3 linked regions of the Homo sapiens genome follow. The protein of the gene in region 2 purifies or fractionates together with the protein of the main gene of each other region. This does not show direct contact. Each region holds a gene or a part of one and is shown on either strand. Other genes may lie near its edges. The genes, in order: SLC16A10, ERAP1 and STARD10.

What was found.
Region 1: the proteins of ERAP1 (region 2) and SLC16A10 purify together in Homo sapiens (affinity purification with mass spectrometry; one large-scale study listed by BioGRID and IntAct). This does not show direct contact.
Region 3: the proteins of ERAP1 (region 2) and STARD10 fractionate together in Homo sapiens (co-fractionation; one large-scale study listed by BioGRID). This does not show direct contact.

Annotation. Positions count from the first base shown.
Region 1 is NC_000006.12:111,085,906-111,089,655, forward strand, and holds the start of SLC16A10 (monocarboxylate transporter 10), read left to right. Parts: upstream 1-1,597; 5' UTR 1,598-1,847; coding exon 1,848-2,190; intron 2,191-3,750. UniProt on the Homo sapiens protein: Sodium- and proton-independent thyroid hormones and aromatic acids transporter.
Region 2 is NC_000005.10:96,787,325-96,790,974, forward strand, and holds part of ERAP1 (endoplasmic reticulum aminopeptidase 1 isoform b precursor), read right to left. Parts: intron 3,320-3,650; coding exon 3,188-3,319; intron 3,044-3,187; coding exon 2,972-3,043; intron 1,362-2,971; coding exon 1,207-1,361; intron 1-1,206. UniProt on the Homo sapiens protein: Aminopeptidase that plays a central role in peptide trimming, a step required for the generation of most HLA class I-binding peptides.
Region 3 is NC_000011.10:72,776,904-72,780,553, forward strand, and holds part of STARD10 (START domain-containing protein 10), read right to left. Parts: intron 1-3,650. UniProt on the Homo sapiens protein: May play metabolic roles in sperm maturation or fertilization. Phospholipid transfer protein that preferentially selects lipid species containing a palmitoyl or stearoyl chain on the sn-1 and an unsaturated fatty acyl chain (18:1 or 18:2) on the sn-2 position.

The sequences.
Region 1 (3,750 bases), on a different chromosome or scaffold from region 2:
AGTAAACCATTGTACTTCACCTCCATGAGGGAGGGAGTATGTTCATAAAGTATTTACATTTCCTGCAGGAGAGATTTGTCTATTCTCTCCTCATTATTTATTTAATCATTTACTTACATCAGTACTGACTCGTGGATAATTCTTACATATGTGTTTGTTTGTGTGCATGCAAATATATAATCGATGTGCTTTCTTTGCCCAATAATATGTTGTGGACAACTTTCAAAGTCAATAAATACAGATGACCTTCAGAACTTTTAGAGGTTTTAAAGTAAGTATCTAATCAGTCTTCTACCAATGTACATTATACTTCCAAATTTTCCTTATTTCCAACAATACTGGGGTATCATCTTCATACATACATTTTTGTGCACTTATGTGCCTATTCCTTTGTTTACTATTTTACCCTCATTTCTAAGGCAGATTACACTTGAGCTATGTTCCCCATTCCACAACCAAGCACGGCTTGCTTTCCTTAGTTTATGCTATTTTCTCTACCTGGAATGCTCTTTTCCTGTCTTGACCCACTGAAGTCGTATGTATGAATCAGGGCTTCGGCCAAAGGCTGTTTGCTGTAGAGGCTCTTCTACAGTGTTTGGAGAGAATTTAAGGGACTATCTCATCTCTCTCTTTTGTACATGTATTATAACACATCATCTGAGCCTCCTAGTCTCTCCCAGGACTCTTTTTTCCTACCAGTTTATCAACTGATAAGAGGCAGAAACGAGATCAATCGCACTCATCTGTGTACTCTATCACAGTGGTGGGCACATCAAGTAACTAGCATATTTTGACTTTGATTGAAGTGAAGAATACGAATAACAGAAATTAAGAAGCATCCTCAATATTGCATAGCAGGTTACTCTTCTTTTCTTTTACATAGGATGGCACTCCATGCTTCAGGGAGACAGAGGAGTTGAATACAGGTTTTAGTTTTTGTTTAAAGTGAAAACGACTCTGATGTAGTTGAAAAGTAATGCTTTCTAGCTGTCTGTTAAAAATGTTTGTTGGTTGAAGACTTCGGAATTGCAGTCCAGTGAGGACTGAAAATAAGCATCTTTGGTGTGCCAAATATTCATAAGGAAATTGTATACGAATGCAAGAGAATGGAACTGAAGTAATAAAATAAGGGCTCTGATCCTTCAGATGACTTATTTAAGAAGCCAGGTGGCATAACGAATCTTACATATTATAATTAGTACTGAGAGGTGAATGCCAAAACATAAAACAAACACAATCGAGACAATGTTAGTGTGACTGTGACGCTGTGTCGGTGAGTTGAGGCTAACGATCCAGTGTGGCTCTCCTGAAGGCCCACCGCGCCCGCACCTAGGAGACGCGCCCCTTCTGCTCATGCTTTGAGGCGGGGTGACCCACACATCTGTGCCCCTCTCTGAGCAGGAGGAGGCCCCGTCGCAGACGCGCGCGCAGACAGCGTCTGCCGCGGGCACCTGGGGCCGCGCGCCGCGGGGCGCCCCGCCTCCGCTCTCCGAGGCCCAATCATCTGGAGGCTGTGGGGGCACGTCCCGCTCCCGGCCACGCCCCCAGCCGGCGGGGCGGGGGGTGCTTTTAAGAACCGGCGGCTGGCAGTGGGCTCAGTCGGGGGTGCGGGGCTGTGACCTAGAGGCTTCAGTGTCGATCCCCGAGGTGTTCGCGCGCGCCAGCTGTCCTCGCGGCCGCCTGCGCGCTGGCCGCCTGCGCGCTGCCAGCCCGCCCGCCCGCCAGGGGCTCCGCCGCCCTCGCCTCGGCCTCGTTAGCCCGCCAGGAGCCCCGCAGCTCCTCCGGGAGCCCGCTGGTAACTCGCGTCCCTCGCGCTTCTCCGGCGCCTGAGGGGCCCGCCTCGGGCCATGGTGCTCTCCCAGGAGGAGCCGGACTCCGCGCGGGGCACGAGCGAGGCGCAGCCGCTCGGCCCCGCGCCCACGGGGGCCGCTCCGCCGCCCGGCCCGGGACCCTCGGACAGCCCCGAGGCGGCTGTCGAGAAGGTGGAGGTGGAGCTGGCGGGGCCGGCGACCGCGGAGCCCCATGAGCCCCCCGAACCCCCCGAGGGCGGCTGGGGCTGGCTGGTGATGCTGGCGGCCATGTGGTGCAACGGGTCGGTGTTCGGCATCCAGAACGCTTGCGGGGTGCTCTTCGTGTCCATGCTGGAAACCTTCGGCTCCAAAGACGATGACAAGATGGTCTTTAAGACAGGTGAGGCGCGGCGCCCGCCGAGGCCAGCCTGGGCGACCCGCGTGGGGCCCCCGAGCGCATCCCGCGTGTGGGCTGTGTCTGCCTCCGAGTGTGCATGTCGGTGGGTCCCTGTGCCAGAGGGTGCGAGCAGGGGGGTCTTTCGAGTTGCAGACAGAGCCTGCCGCTTCTGGGGCCTCGGGGTGCCCGTCTTTATATGGAATCCAGCTGCAGAGCTGTGTGTTTGCAAGCAGGTCGCAGAACTTACTTGCCGAGATCGTCCTCCTTTCCCCTCAGCAGAGCAGACGCTAACAGTCCACAGGAGCCCTTCCTTTTATTGTTTGAAAACAAACAGAACCCCAGAACCTTCAACCCCAGTCATCGCCCTGTCATTTTTGTGGTCTCTTTCGTGACTATGCCAGTTATGTAGTTCTTCACCTGCCTCCCTGGGCCGCAGAGGGGTGTGCGTATGTTGGCGGGGCGGGGGGTGGAGTTTGGAGGAATGAAAGAGATTTGTACGAAGGTCACTGGAGTTCCAAAGGGGGCCCTGCAAGAGTCACGGTTCCGTGCGTTCCCGTCCCCCCGCCTTTTTTTGCCCTCTGGGTTAAATGTAGAAAACACGGGAGGCAGCCGGATTAGGGACTAGGATGAGGAAGGTGAAGGGTTGCTTCTTCCCTCTTCCTGTTGTGTTTTTTGACATTTTTTTTTAACCATATAGTAAATTAGATACAAAAGGTGCAGATTCAGCGTTTTCTCCCTGTAGAGCATTATTATGACTTTTTGGCTGGTTAGGCAAAAAACAAATCTAAGACCTTCTGCATGACACTTTAACATAAATTCTTTCACTTTATCCTGCAAGGTGAGCGCGGTCAACCCCATTTGGGTGAGAAAACTGTAGCTCAGTGAAAGTGTCTTGGTGGGTAGTAGAATGGCAATAAAACACATATCAACTGACTTCAAGGGCTAAGTGATTTCCATTACTAAATCAACCTCCCTCCCCATCATTTGGGGTAACTTTATATGATTAATAGTCTTTTTTTTTAACCTTGATTTTCTATTATTTTTAGAGTGAATATTTCTTAGGTCTTTAGTATGCATATGAGGAATGGGCAAGACTGTAATAAATTCTGAGACAAAGGTAATGCTGGGTTATGCTGAGAGTTTTAAAACCTGACATAAATACTATTAAACTATTTGTATCATTCTGCAACTTACTTTTCTTCCATTCCGCATCATGTTTGTGACTTATCCACATAATACCTCAGTGTGAACTGATAACTCAAATTCTTTCCATTTTAACTTAGGTGGTTTGCATTGTTTGACTATATTATACTCTATGCATTCTCCCTCTGATGGGCATTTAGATTGCTTCCAAACTCATTCTAAACAATGCTGCAATGAATATTCTTGTACACTCTCGTTATGCATGTGAATACGGTACCATTTTAACCTGGAATTTCTGTTCTTTAAATAGCTATTGAAACTGCTGTGGTATGCGGGTCAATGGGCTAGGTACAAAAAGTGTTAAAAATGTAGTAACATATCCTTACCATTTAAGGGAAGTAATCATTGTAAAGTTTAGCA
Region 2 (3,650 bases):
GTGCGATCTCGGCTCACTGCAACCTCCACCTCCTGGGTACAAGCGATTCTCCTGCCTCACCCTCCTGAGTAGCTGGGACTACAGGCGCCCGCCACCATGCCCGGCTAATTTTTGTATTTTTAGTAGAGATGGTGTTTCACCATGTTGGCCAGGCTGGTCTCGAACTCCTAACCTCAGGTGATCCTCCTGCCTCGGCTTCCCAAAGTCCTGGTATTAAAGGCATGAGCCACTGTGACCGGCCATAAATGTTGTTTTGTAGAAAATACTATGCTGAAACATTTAGGTGTGAAGGGGAATCATGTCACCAATTTACTGTCAAACAGTTCAGAAAAACATATGCCAAGTATATACATACAGACATATGTATATAGGTATGTATGTAGATAGATGGATATCGATTAATCAAGATTTAAAACCTCCTTAATCCTTTTGGGAAGATGGGGGAGGGAGGTGTATATATTATATATATATATGTGTGTGTATATATATACACATATATATGTATATATACACACACACATATATCCACACAAACATATACATATATATATAGAGAGAGAGAGAGAGCAAGAGAGAGAGGGAGGTGAAGAAAGTAAAGGAGTAAAGAGTTAACATGTATCTAGGTAAAGGATATATAGGAATTTGTTGTGTTATTCTTGTAACTTCTCTATAAGTCTGAAATTGTTTCAAGATAAAAGAATTTTTTAACGGTATCCATCCAGGGTCAATCAAGTTGCAGCATCTTGTTTCTAATAATATTCTTCTATAGCATTAAGCTGACAAACAGGTTCCAAATCTAACTCAGAAGAAGACAACTGAGTCTCTCATCATTCTCGGAAATCACCTAAATTCTTTTGTCCTCAGCTCCAACCAAATGCTAGGCACTATTGTAATCTAGTAGCAGTTGCTTAGGTTGGAGTTGATTTCAAGCCAGTAACCAGAAATTACCATCATATCAAATTACAAAATATGAGAATGTTAAAGTAATTACATCGTCACCTTTACTGAGAATAACCAAGGTTTAAAGCCTCCTTAATCCTACTGGGAAGATGGGGGCAGGGAGTATAAGTCAACTTCATAGGATACACAGATGCAGCTGAAATATTTTAGCAATAGTGGTAAGGGCATTATTTCAAAAGCAAGGTTCCATCCTACAAGGCAGATGTTACCTAGACAACAAAACAAATTTTACTCTAGGAGCATTACCCAGTGTCCGGGGCGCCGTCAGAGCCCTTCATGTAGTGCTCTTGCTTCATGTGTACATTCCTCCCCCTCACTGTGATGGTTATTAGGGGAAAACCCTTCTGCAGTGTCCAAGTGTTCATCATGGTTTTCACATCCACCCCTTCCTGATGCCAATGCTGGTGTGTACACAAAAAGGCAGACACATCACCCATTTAACCCAACTCTAAGAAAAGAGAGAACACCAGCTTATGCTCAAACAGCCGCTACCAGTTGCCAACCTCCCCTCTTAGGAGCACTTTCTGATCCCTTTCTCAGTGTGATGTCCCCAGCCATCACACCTCCATTAGAGCACCAGCTGTTTGCTTGTCATTTTCCTCCACTACACATACGTGTCTGGAGGACAGGTAGCATACCTAGTTCTGCCGGGCACACTTTGGGGCTGGCAATAACACTGGGCACAAAGCAGGCATGTGAATGAATGAAGGAAGAGAAGGGAGAGAAAGTGCCAGGTTTTCAATACCTACCTAACTATGCTGGTTTTGGACAAGCAAGGTGGAAACAATGTTCAGTCAAGAGCCTGTGTTTCTAAAGTGAGAACACAGAGATGACCCACACTCAACAAATAGTGGGAACTCAAAAGGAGCTGTTTTTTGATACTAAAAAAGCTTTTAAGAAATGATTTAAGAAGTAGTAAAGGCTGGGCGCGGTGGCTCATGCCTGTAATCCTAGCACTTTCGGAGTCTGAGTTGGGTGGATCACCTGAGGTCAGGAGTTCAAGACCAGCCTGGCGAACATGGTGAAACCTCATCTCTACTAAGAATACAAAAATTAACCGGGTGTAGTGGCGTGTGCCTGTAATCCCGGCTACCTGGGAGGCTGAGGCAAGAGAATCGCTGGAACCGGGGAGGCAGAGGCTACAGTGAGCCGAGATCACGCCACTGCACTCCAGCCTGGGCAACAGAGTGAGACTCTGTCTCAAAAAAAAAAGAATTAGTAAAAAGATAAAATGTGCCACAGGACAAATCTAGAAACTACTGAATAAAGCAGTCTCTAGGAACAAAAAAGCCAAGAAAGTAAACATATAAAAAGAAAAAAGAAACAAAAAATTCTGTTGTATCTCCAGACTCACCCTCAGCTTCCTCTGAAAACATCCCACAAGTCCAGATGAACAGAGACTCAGGCTGTTTTGTGACTTGATGTTATGAATACTTTATAGCTTAGCAGTTAAAAACATGAGTTAGATCTAAATTCAGATCTCTGCTCTGCAATTTACCAATCAGATGTCTTTGTATTTCATGTTCTCAACTTTAAAAATAGGGATAGTAATAGTACCCAGCTCACAGGTTTATTATGAAGAGTAAAGGAGATAATACATATAAGTGCTTAACATGTGCCTGACACATGACAAGTATTCAAGAATGCTCAGTGCCATTGTCTTTGTACAAATGCAGAGCTCTGTAAATGACTGACATATCCTTTTGACTGCTACAATGCAGCTGTAATCTGCTATAGAAACATGTCATAAATCCACTGCTTTAAAAGGGAAGCTAGAGAAATTAGTATCAGTGAGAAGCATTACCAAGGAAAGCTCTGCAACCCTCCAGTATAGATACACTTTAAGAAAAATTGAAAAAGATTATGAGTATGGAATAGTTTAAATGCAGTCTTATCTGGAATGAGGGTGATATAATCAAGGACCTCAGAAAGTTTGGCACAGAGCTGCCTTTCAAAGAATATGCAGTAAAAGAATGTGCTTGGGGGAACATGTACAGATATAGAAACTTACTGAGGATGAAGATGAATGTTGACTTCTAGAGCAAAAGCCATCCATCCCTTTTACACCATCTGTAGGGCAAATCTAAAAACCAAAAATAAACACATCACTCTTATTTCTATAGAAAACAATGATTCTCCTCAGAGGGATTAACATAATGCAGGGAAAACAAAACAAGATGATAAGCCTGTCAATCCCAAATGCAGAGATATTCAAAAACATACTCACACTTGCCATACTATCCCACAGGTCCTCGTTTTTTGTATTTTTATAGCTATGCTTCTGGAGATACTGTACAATACCACTTTTAAATGCGTCAGCACTAAGATACTCCCTTAGCATATTCAGAATACAAGCTCCCTGAAAAGATAATAGAAATAATTGTTATCTATAGTTTCATTGCAGTCTCATCTGAAATCACATATTCTTTTGCAATAAAACACATTTCTTTGAAAACGCAACTGCAGGAACACTGTTAATGTCTGGCAATTTGTGAAACAGAGTAAGCAGGTTAAACCTGGACCTGTTTAGGCAGGAGATTTGTCTAATGTGATTGCTTATGCTCTGAGCCCACTGAGGCCCTTATTTTCTATCAGTAGCCAGACCTCCCGATGGGGCAAATTAGCATCATCTGCCAACTCCCTTTGTTCACATGTGAGTGGGGATAATGGTGCAGATTAAACATTGGACC
Region 3 (3,650 bases), on a different chromosome or scaffold from region 2:
GAGGGGCCGCCTGAGCTTTTCCCAAAGGGGAAGGGGAGGAGCAGCAGGACAGGAAGTCAGAGGAGACAGGTCCCCACTGCCCAGCTTCCTGTGGCCAGCAGAGCCTCAGGCTCTCAGCCACACCCCCTCCCACACCTGCTCCAGGGCCAGGTCTCTCCTGTCATGGGCTCAGGCTCTTATCAGGCCTCATTCCTGCCCCAAGGCTGCCTGTGCAGTGGGTAGGAGGTCACCTGGAACTGTCTGTCCTCTCTCCACCAGGGTCTGAAGACCTCTGAGGAGATACGCAGGTCTCCCCTGCCTCTCATGCGGCCAGCCTCAGGAGAACAGAGCACGTGAGCATCCAGGCCAGGGCCTCACAGGCCACGTCCTCTGCTGTCTGCCTGCTCCTCATCTCTCCCCAGCTGGGTGCTGAGTTCAGAGGCTCTTGGAGCCAAGAGGGCCCAATGGCACAGACGGGCAAGCAGCCCAGAGAGGGGCAGGAATGTGCCCAAGGTCACATGCAACAGCCAGGACTGGACCCCAGCTGGCCCTGGTTGAATGACTGACAGAAGCTCTTGGTCTCCCGTTTCTCACACCAATACAGGTGCCATGAGGAAGCTGACCTGGGCTTTGAGAGACCTGAGTTCAGGCTCCAAGCTGCCCCCTGCCTTGTACCCAGGATCCACATTCAGCATCTGTCCCTGGGACAGGGACTGAACTGTCAGGAGGTAGTGTCTGTCTCTTTTCCAGTATTCAGAGCACAGTGCAGCCCTGGGGCCAGGTCAGGCTGGAGGCCAGGAGGGAGGGAAGGGGTGGAGGTGGCCTCCAACAGCCCCTTTCTCTTTGTCCTGGCTCCAACTACTGGGCCTTGAGCCACAGTGGCTTCCAGGGACCTCTGGACCCAGGTAAGGGGAAGAGAGATGAGGAAGAGGAATTGAATCAGGTAGATAGCTAGGTGGAGTCCCACCCCCACCCTGGGATCAGGAGCACGGGGCATGTCCAGGGGTCAGCTGGCTTTCCCAGCTCTGGGGACAGGCCCAGAGCAGGCTGAGGCAGGAGAGGGGAGGGGGAAAGGGGGGCAGAAGCTCAGCAAACACCTGCAGTTGAGTCCCAGCCTCCTGGAGTGACCCAGTCATCCCCAGGGATTCTGGCTCCAGACCTGCTGGGTGACCTTGGCAAGCCACTCCCCTTTGTGGGCCTCGGCTTTCTCATCCATCAAACAAGAATAGGATGATGAGAACAACGCGTCCTCCAGGCCTTCAAAGAGTTATTGATGGGGTTAAAGGCCACAGTGTTGACTAAGATGCGAGCCCATGTGGAGAGGGGCAGGGGCTCTGGAGCCAGGCTGGCATGGGTTCCACTCTTGCCTCAGCTGTGGCATGACCTTAGGCAAATAACATTACCTCACTCAGCCTCAGTTTCTTTGTTTGTAACACAGAGACAAGACTACACTGCCCCAGACTAGCCTCGGGGTAAATTAGATGATGGGGAGAAATGCTTGGCTCAGAGCAGGGCTCTCATTATCAGAAATGGGATTATCTGCATGGAACCTGGGAGTCCTGCAATCTTGGGGATGGGAAGCTCACAGGCCTCTGTCCATCTCTCCCAGAGCTCCAACTAGCTGTGCTGAGAGGATCAGGAGTGGGAGCTGGCACCTTGGGGTGCCCATAACCAGGGTCCCAGCCTCCTTCCTGGGTCTGGGCTCTGCTCACCTCCTCTCCCCACCCTCTCTCCATTGTAGGGAGCAAAGCTGGGGAGGCACCCTGCAGGGAGAAGCAAGGCAGGAGGACTGCCAAGATGCTGTAGATCTGGGTTCCAGACCCAGCTCTGCTGAGACAGCTGTGTGACTCTAGGCAGGTCCCTGCCCCTCTCTGAGCCCCAGTATCCTTGCCTGCATCCCAGGGGCAGGAGGGGTATGACATAGGGATTACCAAGGGCTCTTTGGCACCTCCAACATCTGTTCAGTCTGAAAGAAAAGGAGGGTAGGGTCCTGGCTGCCCAGGGTGTATGCCTGTCCAGAAGCCTACAACACCCCAGTTTTTCCAAGTCCCCGCCACCCACAAGGAAGGCCACCTGACAAGTCTGATCTGGCCACGAGTGGTCTGTTGCAGTCAGCCTGGCCCCAGACCCACCAATTCCAGGCCTGGGCTGGGTAGGGTTTATTCATTAACCAAGCCAGATGGAGGAGGTAGCTCCGCCCTATTGACACAGAGGGTGGGAGTACTGGCCTCAGTTCAGACCCCTCCTCCTCTGACTTTCTGGAGTGCCAGCTTGGTGGGGAAACTACACTTCTCCCCCAGTGTGCACTGCCCGCCTGAAGCCTTTCCCAGGTCACAGTCAGGCTCTCGTGAATTCCCTTCTCACCTTTCATTCAATTTGTTCCTTGGTTCTTTCCTCCCCCCTCTCTTCCACCAATATCCCTGCTCTAACTGTGTTGGATGCTGGGGACGCAAAGAGGACAGGACCTGAGAGGCTGAAGCGGGTGGATCACTTGAGGTCAGGAGTTCAAGACCAGCCTGGCCAATGTGGTGAAACCCTATCTCTACTACAAATACAAAAATTAGCTGAGTGTGGTGGTGTGCACCAGCAGTCCCAGCTACTGCTGGGAGGCAGGAGAATCACTTGAACCTGGGAGGTGGAGATTGCAGTGAGCTAAGATCTCGCTACTACACTTCAGCCTGAGAGACAGAGTGAGGCTTCTCAAAAAAAAAAGAAAAAAGGATAGGAGACCTGTCCCTGCTCTCAGGGAACAACCAGCTGGGACATGCCAGCTGCCTTCCCCATCCCTGCTCCTCAGGCTCAGACACAGGTTCTGAGGCCCTGGGCAGCGAATCCCAAAGTGGGAGACACACATGGAAACCCAGAGGGAAAAACAGTCAGATGGCCAAGGTGCAGACAGAGTCAGAGGGGAGAAGGGGAGGCAGAAAGTGAAAAGCAGATAATCGTGTGGGGATGGACAGAACTATATGTAAATGATTAAGACAAAGTGAGGCAGAAGGGCTCAGGGTCAGAGGGGAAAGGTCAGACATCTCAGGTCTTGGTAAGGGGCCAAGATACATGCCTGAACTAAGTCTGAGACTAGGTCCCAGGCAGAAGGGGAGGGTGGACTCCTCCACATTTCCAGGAGGATAGCAGAAGGGAGAAGGCAAGGAAGAGGAAGGCGAAGGGCACAGCCTATTGCCAGAGCCCATTGCAAGGGGACCTACCAGCCCTGGAAATGCAGCACCCACAGCAACATCAGATGTGTTGGGGGCAGCTATTGAGGCCCTTAAACCAGAGTCTTCACGAGCCCCTGCCCCATCTGGTCCCCTGGGGGATATGCGTTCCCAGGGTCCCAAACCCCAAGCCTGCCCTGCACGGCAAAGAGAGGAGAATTGTGGGGTTGGGAAGAGCAGGGGAGATGGCTGTGAGCGACTGATGTGTCTGCAACTGCTCCCTATGTTGGCTTCCCTTGACCCCAGGCCCCTTCCTTCCCCAGCCCACCTGTAGCCTGGCTCTGTGCAAGGCAGGGGTATTGGAGCCCTGCCTTCAGGATCTGCCAGCCACAATCCTGAGTCCCTGCAGGAGGCTAAGGGAGCAGCCAGGGAGGGAGGGAAGGGAAAGAGCAAGAGCAGGGCATCGGGCAGTAAGGAATCGGGTCCTGGGCAACCCAGGGTGCAGAAAGCGGGGAA